2 linked regions of the Homo sapiens genome follow. The protein of the gene in region 1 interacts with the protein of each later gene in a pairwise test. Each region holds a gene or a part of one and is shown on either strand. Other genes may lie near its edges.

Evidence for each region. The genes of interacting proteins can lie anywhere in the genome.
Region 2: the proteins of GSR (region 1) and CSTPP1 interact in a two-hybrid assay, tested with the Homo sapiens proteins (one large-scale study listed by BioGRID and IntAct).

What each region holds. Positions count from the first base shown.
Region 1 is NC_000008.11:30,699,709-30,704,898, forward strand, and holds part of GSR (glutathione reductase, mitochondrial isoform 1 precursor), read right to left. Parts: intron 3,533-5,190; coding exon 3,385-3,532; intron 428-3,384; coding exon 373-427; intron 1-372. UniProt on the Homo sapiens protein: Catalyzes the reduction of glutathione disulfide (GSSG) to reduced glutathione (GSH). Constitutes the major mechanism to maintain a high GSH:GSSG ratio in the cytosol.
Region 2 is NC_000011.10:47,159,642-47,163,367, forward strand, and holds the end of CSTPP1 (centriolar satellite-associated tubulin polyglutamylase complex regulator 1), read left to right. Parts: intron 1-1,485; coding exon 1,486-1,549; coding exon of another isoform or gene 1,550-1,553; exon of another isoform or gene 1,554-1,804; coding exon of another isoform or gene 1,805-1,822; coding exon 1,823-1,997; 3' UTR 1,998-2,606; downstream 2,607-3,726. UniProt on the Homo sapiens protein: Regulator of the tubulin polyglutamylase complex (TPGC) that controls cytoskeletal organization, nuclear shape, and cilium disassembly by balancing microtubule and actin assembly.

The sequences.
Region 1 (5,190 bases):
GCTAGGATTACAGCCATGAGCCACCACATCTGGCCAAAACCAGCTATTCTATTCTAAAATACAAGCTACTTTAGACACATTCTTAATTGATGCTGTATTAAGTTGAAGAAAGAAGACAGTTTTAGGACTTTGCTATGCAGTCTTCAAATTACCCTGCATTTGACTTTGGCCTCTGATTGAAAGCATGAAAGATTTGAGGGATCTACTGAGGAGTTCTAGGAATGAGATATACAAGGTCATGAAAAGAGAAGCTGTAAGAGGAGGGAATTCAGGAAAGGCCTACATTAAATGCTTGGGAGGAGAAGACGAAGAAAAGTTACCAGGAGACAGTAAGGAAGAATGAGTCACTGAGGTCAGGTCAGGTTGGCTTACCCGGGCAATTCTTCCAGCTGAAAAAATCCATCGCTGGTTATTCCTAAGCTGGCACCTATGTAGAAAAAGGCAACATAGATCACACAAGACTGCTCTTTCTCTTGCAAAGTAATCACAACATTTTATGCCAAAAACCAAACACTTTCACAGCCAACATAGTCTCCGTTTTGACAAGTTTTGTTAAAGTCTCTGCTTGGAAAGCTGCCAACCAAATCCTCCCTGAGTTAACATTTTTATTTTCTCTCTAGAAACAGAAGCCATGATGGCTAAATAACTTTTACATTTCTCTGAAGAATGAAGATCTCAGTGGTCATGAACAGACTCTGTTGGATCTGTTCACCCTCCCACCCCAAGGGCAGGTAGGAACCCTGGGGCTCAGCTCATTACAGGTGTGAGACACCGTTCCTGCCTGAAAAGACAAATTTCTATGTAGTTCAAAATCTATGTGGCCTGGCCAACGTGGTGAAACCCTGTCTCTACTAAAAATACAAAAATTAGCTGGGCATGGTGGCACGCACCTATAGTCCCAGCTACTTGGGAGGCTGAGGCAGGAGAATCACTTGAACCTGGGAGGTGGAGGTTGCAGTGAGCCGAGATCGTGCCACTGCACTCCAGCCTGGGAACAGAGCAAGATTTTGTCTCCAAAAAAAAAAAAAAAAAAAAAAAAAAATCGACGTGGCCCTTTCCTCTCTGCTTATTCTTTCAAAGGTTTCAACCTATATGGTGTACACATTGAATTACAAGAGGTACAACCTATATAGTGAAATATACATGTAGTGAAAAGGAGATTGAAACCTTTGGATATAGGATAGCAGGTCCTATCTTGCAGGACTTCCAGATGCATTCTTCCAGGTTTGACCTTCTCCCCAGGTTGCAGTTCCATGTTTCTAACTATCTCGCCACACAATTTTACATTGGCTTCAAACTTAGTCTATTTAGAACTGAACCTTAATTTTATCTTCCAACCCATATCTCTCTCAAGTTTACCACTTCAGTTACCACCTGCTCCCAATAATGCAGACAAAGCCTTCAGTTGTCAACTGCTGATTCCTTCTCTCTGTAGCCCCCCTACCCTCATTTCTCATCAGTTATTAAATATATTAGGCCAGGTGCAGTGGCTCACACCTATAATCCCAGCACTTTGGGAGACTAAGACAGGCAGATCGCCTGAGGTCAAATGTTCGAGACTAGCCTGGCCAACATGGTGAAACCCCGTCTCTACTAAAAATACAAAAATTAGCTGAGTGTGGTGGCGCATGCCTGTAATCCCTGCTACTCAGGAGGCTGGGGCAGGAGAATTGCTTGAACACAGGAGGCAGAGGTTGCAGTGAGCCAAGATCCTCCCATTGCACTCCAGCCTGGGTGACAAAAGCAAAACTCTGTCTCTGAACAAACAAACAAACAAAAAAATATATATGTTGCATTTTGGCCGGGTGCAGTGGCTCACACCTGTAATCCCAGCACTTTGGGAGGCCAAGGTGGGCAGATCAACTGAGGTCAGGAGTTTGAGACTGGCCTGGACAACGTGGCAAAACCCCACCTCCACTAAAAATACAAAAAAAATTAGCTGGACATGGTGGTATGTGCCTGTAGTACCAGCTACTAAGGAGGCTGAGGCAGGAGAATTGCTTAAACCCGGGAGGCAGAGGTTCCAGTGAGTGGAGATTGCGCCACTGCACTCCAGCCTGGGTGGCAGAGCAAGAATCTGTCTCACAAAAAAAAAAAAAAAAAAAAAAAAAATTCACCTTGATAATGGATCTTATGAAGCTAATCCATGGAAAATTCAAAAGATGTATAAACTATGTTCACCATCCACAAAGTCCTTATAATCTAGCTGGGAAAAAAGAAAGATATCGCTTGAGCCATCTCCCATCTAAACGTCCTGGTCAAGGCCTTAGTGAGCTGTGATCACACCACTGCACTCCAGCCTGGACAACAGAGCAAGACCCTGTCTCAAAAAAATAAAATAATATAAAATAAAATAATAGGCCGGGCACAGTGGCTCACGCCTGTAATCCCAGCACTTTGGGAGGCCGAGGTGGGCCCATGTGACCAACATGGTGAAACTCTGTCTCTACTAAAGTACATAATTAGCTGGGCGTGGTGGCGGACACCTGTAATCCCAGCTACTCGGGAGTCTGAGGCAGGAAAATCGCTTGAACCCAGGAGGTGGAGGTTGCAGTGAGCTGAGGTTGTGCCACTGCACTCCAGCCTGGGTGACAGAGCCAGACTCTGTCTCTAAATAAATAAATAAATAAATAAATAATAAAATAAAATGCAAAAGAAGTTATGACCATCTCTGAGATTCCTTACAGCTTTAATCTTCTATAAGTCTCTACTTAAAAGAGAAAAATATGCATATAAAAGCTCACTTAGCTACTCAAGCTACATCCTTACAAGATTTCTCTCTCTTGAACAAAACAATAAATTATCACGTGTCTTGTAAATAACAACCCGTCTGACAAACTGAGGCTGGAAACAATGTATGCTAAGCTAAGAAGGAAAGAATGAGGCTTTCATTGATTTCTCTCCCTCTGTTACCTGCAATATGTCTGAGCCTGGGGCCAAATGAAATCTCTTGGCTGGGCACGGTGGCCTGCAATCCCAGCACTTTGGGAGGCCAAGGTGGGTGGATCACCTGAGGTCAAGAGTTCAAGACCAGCCTGGCCAATATGATGAAACCCCATCTCTACTAAAAATACCAAAACTAGCCAAGTGTGGTGGTGGCATGCCTGTAGTCCCAGCTACTTGGGAGGCTGAGGCAGGAGAATCACTTGAACCCAGGAGGCGGAGGTAGCAGTGAGCCAAGATCGTGCCACTGCACTCCAGCCTGGGCGACTGCATCACTAGCTACCACTAAGCCAACTGGAGTTAGGTTCTGCAGAGACCTTCTCCCATGGCCTGGCTCCAAAGAGAGAACTGGTTTAGGCAGATCCCCTGGCATGGCTTTTCAGGTTGAAAGCAACAGTAAACTCCTGACTGCTGTTAATGAGTACCTGTTGTATGACTCACCGGGGATCTGGCTCTCATGAGGGGTGGAGGGCATACCACCTGTGGCGATCAGGATGTGTGGGGCGGTGTACTTTTTCCCACTGACCTCTATTGTGGGCTTGGGATCACTCGTGAAGGCTGCATGGCCACGGATGATTTCTATATGGGACTAAAGAAGGAACCATGACATTAGCCTGTTCTTAGAATAAAAACAAAGACACCTACTGCAACTTATCAGAACTTTCATTTCTCTACTGAACATTTTGATTCTTGGTTTGCTGATGCCAACACAATTCTCCGTTTTTCAAGTTTCTGTAGAACTTCTAACTGGCAACCTATACTTAGGAAAGGGGTTGCCATTAGTTGCCGGAAGTATACAGTAAGATGAAATAGGCTGGGCACAGGTGGCTTACACCTGTAATCCTAGCACTTTGGGAGGCAGAGGTGGGTGGATAGCTTGAGCTCAGGAGTTCGAGACCAGCCTGGGAAACATGTCAAAACCCAGTCTCTACTAAAAATACAAAAATTAGCCATGCATGGTGCTGCACACCTGTAGTCCCAGCTCTTTGAGGGGCTGAGGCAGGAGGATTGCTTGAATCTGGGAGGTTGAGGCTGCAGTGAGCTGAGATGGCACCACTGCACTCCAGCCTGGATGACAAAGTGAGGGGGAGGAGGAGGAGAAAGAAGAAGAAGGAAGGAGGGAAGGGGAGCAGGGGAAGGAAGAAGGAGGAGGAGGAGAAGAGGGAGGAGGAGGAGGAAGAAAGAAAGAAGTTAGAAGAAGGAAGGAAAGAAGAAAGAAGGAAGAAGGAGGAAAAAGAAGAAGAAATAAAAGTGCTAACTTGGGCCAAAACCCAGAGACAAAAAAGTATATGCAAGGCACCCCCGTAAGAAAGATGACATCTTTGCCCCCAAGAATTGAGGGCGAAAGTTCCTTATGTGCAATGTAATCACATTACAGAATGGTGTGTCTGGCCTGGGCATGGTGGCTCACATCTGTAATTCCAGCACTTTGGAAGGCCGAGGCAGGCAGATCACCTGAGGTCGGGAGTTCGAGACCAGCCTGACCAACATGGAGAAACCCCATCTCTACTAAAAATATAAAAATTAGCCAGAAGTGGTGGCGGGCACCTGTAATCCCAGCTGCTCAGGAGGCTGAGGCACGAGAATTCCTTGAACCTGGGAGGCAGAGGTTGCAGTGAGCCGAGATTACGCCACTGCACTCCATCCTGGGCGACAGAGACAAGACCCTCTCTCAAAAAGACTGGTGTGTCTGGAGGAGAGGCAGAAGGCTAAGAAAGACAACAGGATAATGGTGAAATGAACAGAGGCAAGAGCAAGAGAGGAATACTCTGGCCAAGGGAGGGAAACGCAATGCTTGTGCTTTCGTAAAATGGGAAGAATACCACAAAAGTACATGACACTGAAGTTCTACGCTGGAGACGGTGAGAACTCAGACTCTTACTTTTGGATTTGCTCTTACTGGAATCCTCTGTACCCAGGCCTTCACTTAGGGGCTGCTGGCACGCTTTCGCCAGCCATGATACATGCAGGGGCATGCAAATGTGGTCAACTTACAAGAATAATGGAACCATGTAAGCATGATTACAAAGTGGAATGCTTTAACATATTGGAACGTGCTTGATTCTGAATTGAGTTATCTTCTTCTTTCCCTGCACCCTCCAGGCCTGTTCCTGCAGGTGCCAGGCTTAATCAAGCTGAATCAAGGTCAAAGACAAAATCCACAGGCCTCCAGAACACCATTCCCTCAGGTCTTAATGACTTCATCTGCAATGCTAGACAAAAAGGAGTATGGCTCGCGTGGCGATA
Region 2 (3,726 bases), on another chromosome or scaffold:
GGAAGGAGAAGCCAATTAGCAACTGGGTCACAGCCTGAAGTAACCTCATCCCCCTTTTCTAAGGGCCTTTAAAAAGGACACTGGCTGGGTGTGGTGGCTCACGCCTGTAATCCCAACACTTTGGGAGGCCGAGGCGGCGGATCACCTGAGGTCAGGAGTTCGAGACCAGCCTGGCCAACATGGAGAAACCCCGTCTCTACTGAAAATACAAAATTAGCCAGTTGTGGTGGCACATGCCTGTAATTCCTGCTACTGGGGAGGCTGAGACAGAAGAATCACTTGAACCAGGGAGGCGGAGGTTGCAGTGAGCCAAGATCGCATCATTGCATTTCAGCCTGGACAACAAGAGCGAAACTCCATCAAATAAATAAACACTAATAGCCAGACATGGTGGCTCCACCTGTAATCCCAGCATTTGGGGAGGCTAAAGCAAGAGGATTGCTTGAGCCCAGGAGTTAATGACCAGCCTGGGCAATATAGGGAGAACCCCGTCTCTTTAGAAAAAAAACAAAAATTAGCTGGGTGTGGTGGCATGTACCATTGGTCTCAGCTACGCAGGAGGCTGAGGTGGGAAGATCGCTTGGGCATGGGAGGTCGAGGCTGCAGTGAGCCATGATCACTGCACTCCAGCCTGGGTGACAAAGCAAAACTCTGTCTCAAAAAAAAAAAAAAAAAAAAAGTCACTCTCATTCAACCACTTTTACTGCACACTAACATTGGGTGGTTGGATGGAATGGGAGACAGAAAGAAGCATGTGGTCTCAGGCCTCACCTGCATCTCCAGCGTATGAAATAGAAATCCGGAGATACACTGGTTGACGCGTCACGGAGGTCAGCCCTGTTCCCTTAGTCCCCAGGGCACCCCACAAATGAGAGGGTTCTATGAGATGTACTTTGAAAACCACTAACTTAGGGCAAGAGGGGCCAGGAGGCATCATCTGAAAAAGATTTGGAAAAAGGGGAAATCTGCCTGTGCCGGGTTAATTCTGGCCCTGACCCAGCCTTCTCCTCTTGCCCCTGGGATCCTCCTTGGAGAAGCAGAGGCAGCATTTTTTTTTTAACCATCTGTCTCCAAAGTGGGGTCATCCTGATTTAGGGACACAAAATTAGGTAATGTCTGACCTTTGGGCTTAGCCTGGACCATATCCTTTTCAGCCCAGTACCTGAGGCCTCAAGAAGGAACTCAACTCCCAGCACCAGGTCACAACCACCACCTGGTGTTGGAAGGGGATCACCACACTCCTTGGCTGTGGTGTCTGCCCCAGGCAGGGAAAGTAGGCAGTGGGATTCAATAAATGTATCAAGCAACAGCGAGCACCTTCCTGCTCCGTGACTGTTCTTGGCCCCTCTAGCAGTCCTCAGATCTTTAGATCGGCCCTCGCAGGGTCAGCAGAACAGGCAGCCGTGAAGGTGAGGGGCATGGAGGAATCTGTTGCCTGGCTGAAGGGCCCTCAGATTAACTACTGTGCCCCCAATGATCTCCTAGGAGCTTTGCCTGACAAGGGGGATCTGATGCACGACCCAGCAATGGATGAAGAGCTGGAACGGCTGTAAGTGTCAAGTGGGAGGATACTGCCCCCTTGTGGGGGCCAGACGGGTCGGACACGGCTGTGCCCCATCTGGGGCCAACACCACTTGTCTGTAACATCCCACATCTGCCAGGGAAGGGTCTGGGGGCCAGTGGAGGCCTGAGGTGTCCCTCCCTCTGAGTCCTTTGGGGGCTGCAGCCCAGGGGTTTACCCTAGTGTTAAGAGTGGGCATGGAGGCCCTGCTCTCTGTACAGGAGGCCTCTCGCTGCCCTCCAGGCTTCTTCCCTTCTTCAGGCTGGCCCAGGTCCCAGGCCTGGTCAACTCGGTCACAGCCAGTCCAGAGGCCAGTTGCCTGCCTTCCCGGACCCCTCCCCGGGTTGGCTCTCCCTGGAGACCTCTCCATCATTCCCGAAAAGTGGATGGAGAGAGTGATGGCTCCACTGAAGAGACAGACGAGTCGGAGACTTGAGGAGTCCAAAGGGTCCTGCCCACAGCGCCCTGTACCTGCTCCCACCCAGCCCTTGGTGTGCCCACCCAGCCTCCTCTCCAGCACCTTGCTGTGCTGCCCTCTGCTGCTGACAAGGTGAATAACAGCCCCAAGACCAGCCAGAGGGGCTCTGATGATCAGCCCAGCCAGTGGCCCCGGAAGGTGAATGGCCTGCTCTCCCTGGCCCTATCAGCCTGTGAACTTCACTTAGGCCCCAAGCTGACAGACTGTGCTGAGGCCACCTTGTCACGCCGTAGCCTGTTAGTCCTCCTAACCTCTTAAGAGCAGTCTCTTCTGAGCCAGCCTCTGCGGGTCCCCCAATAAGGTTCATCTCCTCACAGCAACTCCATTAAGGGGGAGAACCCGAATAGCCACGCAGGGCCTTGCACCATCAAGGGTGACACCTGCGACGCAAGTACCAGGAGGACATAACCGCTGTGGCCTGTTGGAGAACAGCCAGTAGCCTTGGTAATATGAAGGGTGGGCCAGAAGATGATTTCACTTGCAAAAACTGCTTCAAGTCTTGACCCCTTTGTGTCTAATAGCTAAACAAACATGTGAAACGAATAAAAAGTCCCTCATGTCTGGTAACTGGTGAGTCTAAAGCTCCTAGGCTGAGGGGAGAAGGGAGAGGGGGAGTTTGGGTTTTCGGTGCTTTTCTGGTAGGACTAGGAGGTAGGCCAGTGGCCCACTCAGACCTGGGGACCTGCCTCAGACAACGAGCAGAGGGGCCTAGCTTCGCACAAGAGCAACCTTCCAGAGGAAAAGTGCTCACAGCTGGAACGGCCTTCAGGAAACAGGTTCAGAGGGTTCAAGGCCAGGTTCCCATAACTTTAAAGACCGTGGCCATAAAGGGTTAATACTGCACAGCCTTCCAGCCAGGGTTTCAGTCAACATTTGCCAAGCACCTGCTTGGGGTTAGAACAGTGGGATGCAGCTGTGAAAGACAGACAGACACAGCCTGGGGCAGACACATCCCAGCCAAGACTGGAGGCAGGTAAGGACGAGTGTCTTCAACTTCTTTGGATTGAGGGCTGAAGGGGCGGGGTCCCCCAGAAAGCAAAACCCACCCAGAAGCCCAAGCAGAACAGGACTGCCTCCTCTGAAGGTGGATGTCACCACTACTAGGCATACACATTTCCTTGGGCTCATCCCTACCCAGAACGGATCATTACAGGAACTGCCTCCCAAACCCCTGCAGAGCTGAGGCCAAGACTAGGCATTCCAGCCCCGAAGCTGCTCCAGGATGCAGTGGCTCATTGCCTGTAATCCCAGCACTTTGGGAGGCCAAGGTGGGCCAACTGCTTGAGCCCAGGAGTTCAGGACCACCCTGGGAAACATAGTAGGACCCTATCTCTACAAAATAACCTTAGCCAGGCATGGTAGCTTGCACCTGTAGTCCCAGCTACTTGGGAGACCCGAGGTAGATCACTTGAACCCAGGAGGTTGAGGCTGCAGTGAGCCATGATCGTGCCACTGCACTCCCGTCTGAGTGACTGACAGAATGAGACCATCTTAAAAAAAAAAAAAAAAAAAAGCTCAGGCTGCGTGATGAGCTCTGTAGGCCCACAATGATGCACAGCCCATAAGAGACATGGTTCTCAAATCCTGGTGTCCTCAGAATCACAGGAAAGCCTACTGACGATGCAAATTACCAAGCTCCAGAGAGTCTAACTCTATCAACTTGGGATGGAGTCCAGAAATTCCAGAT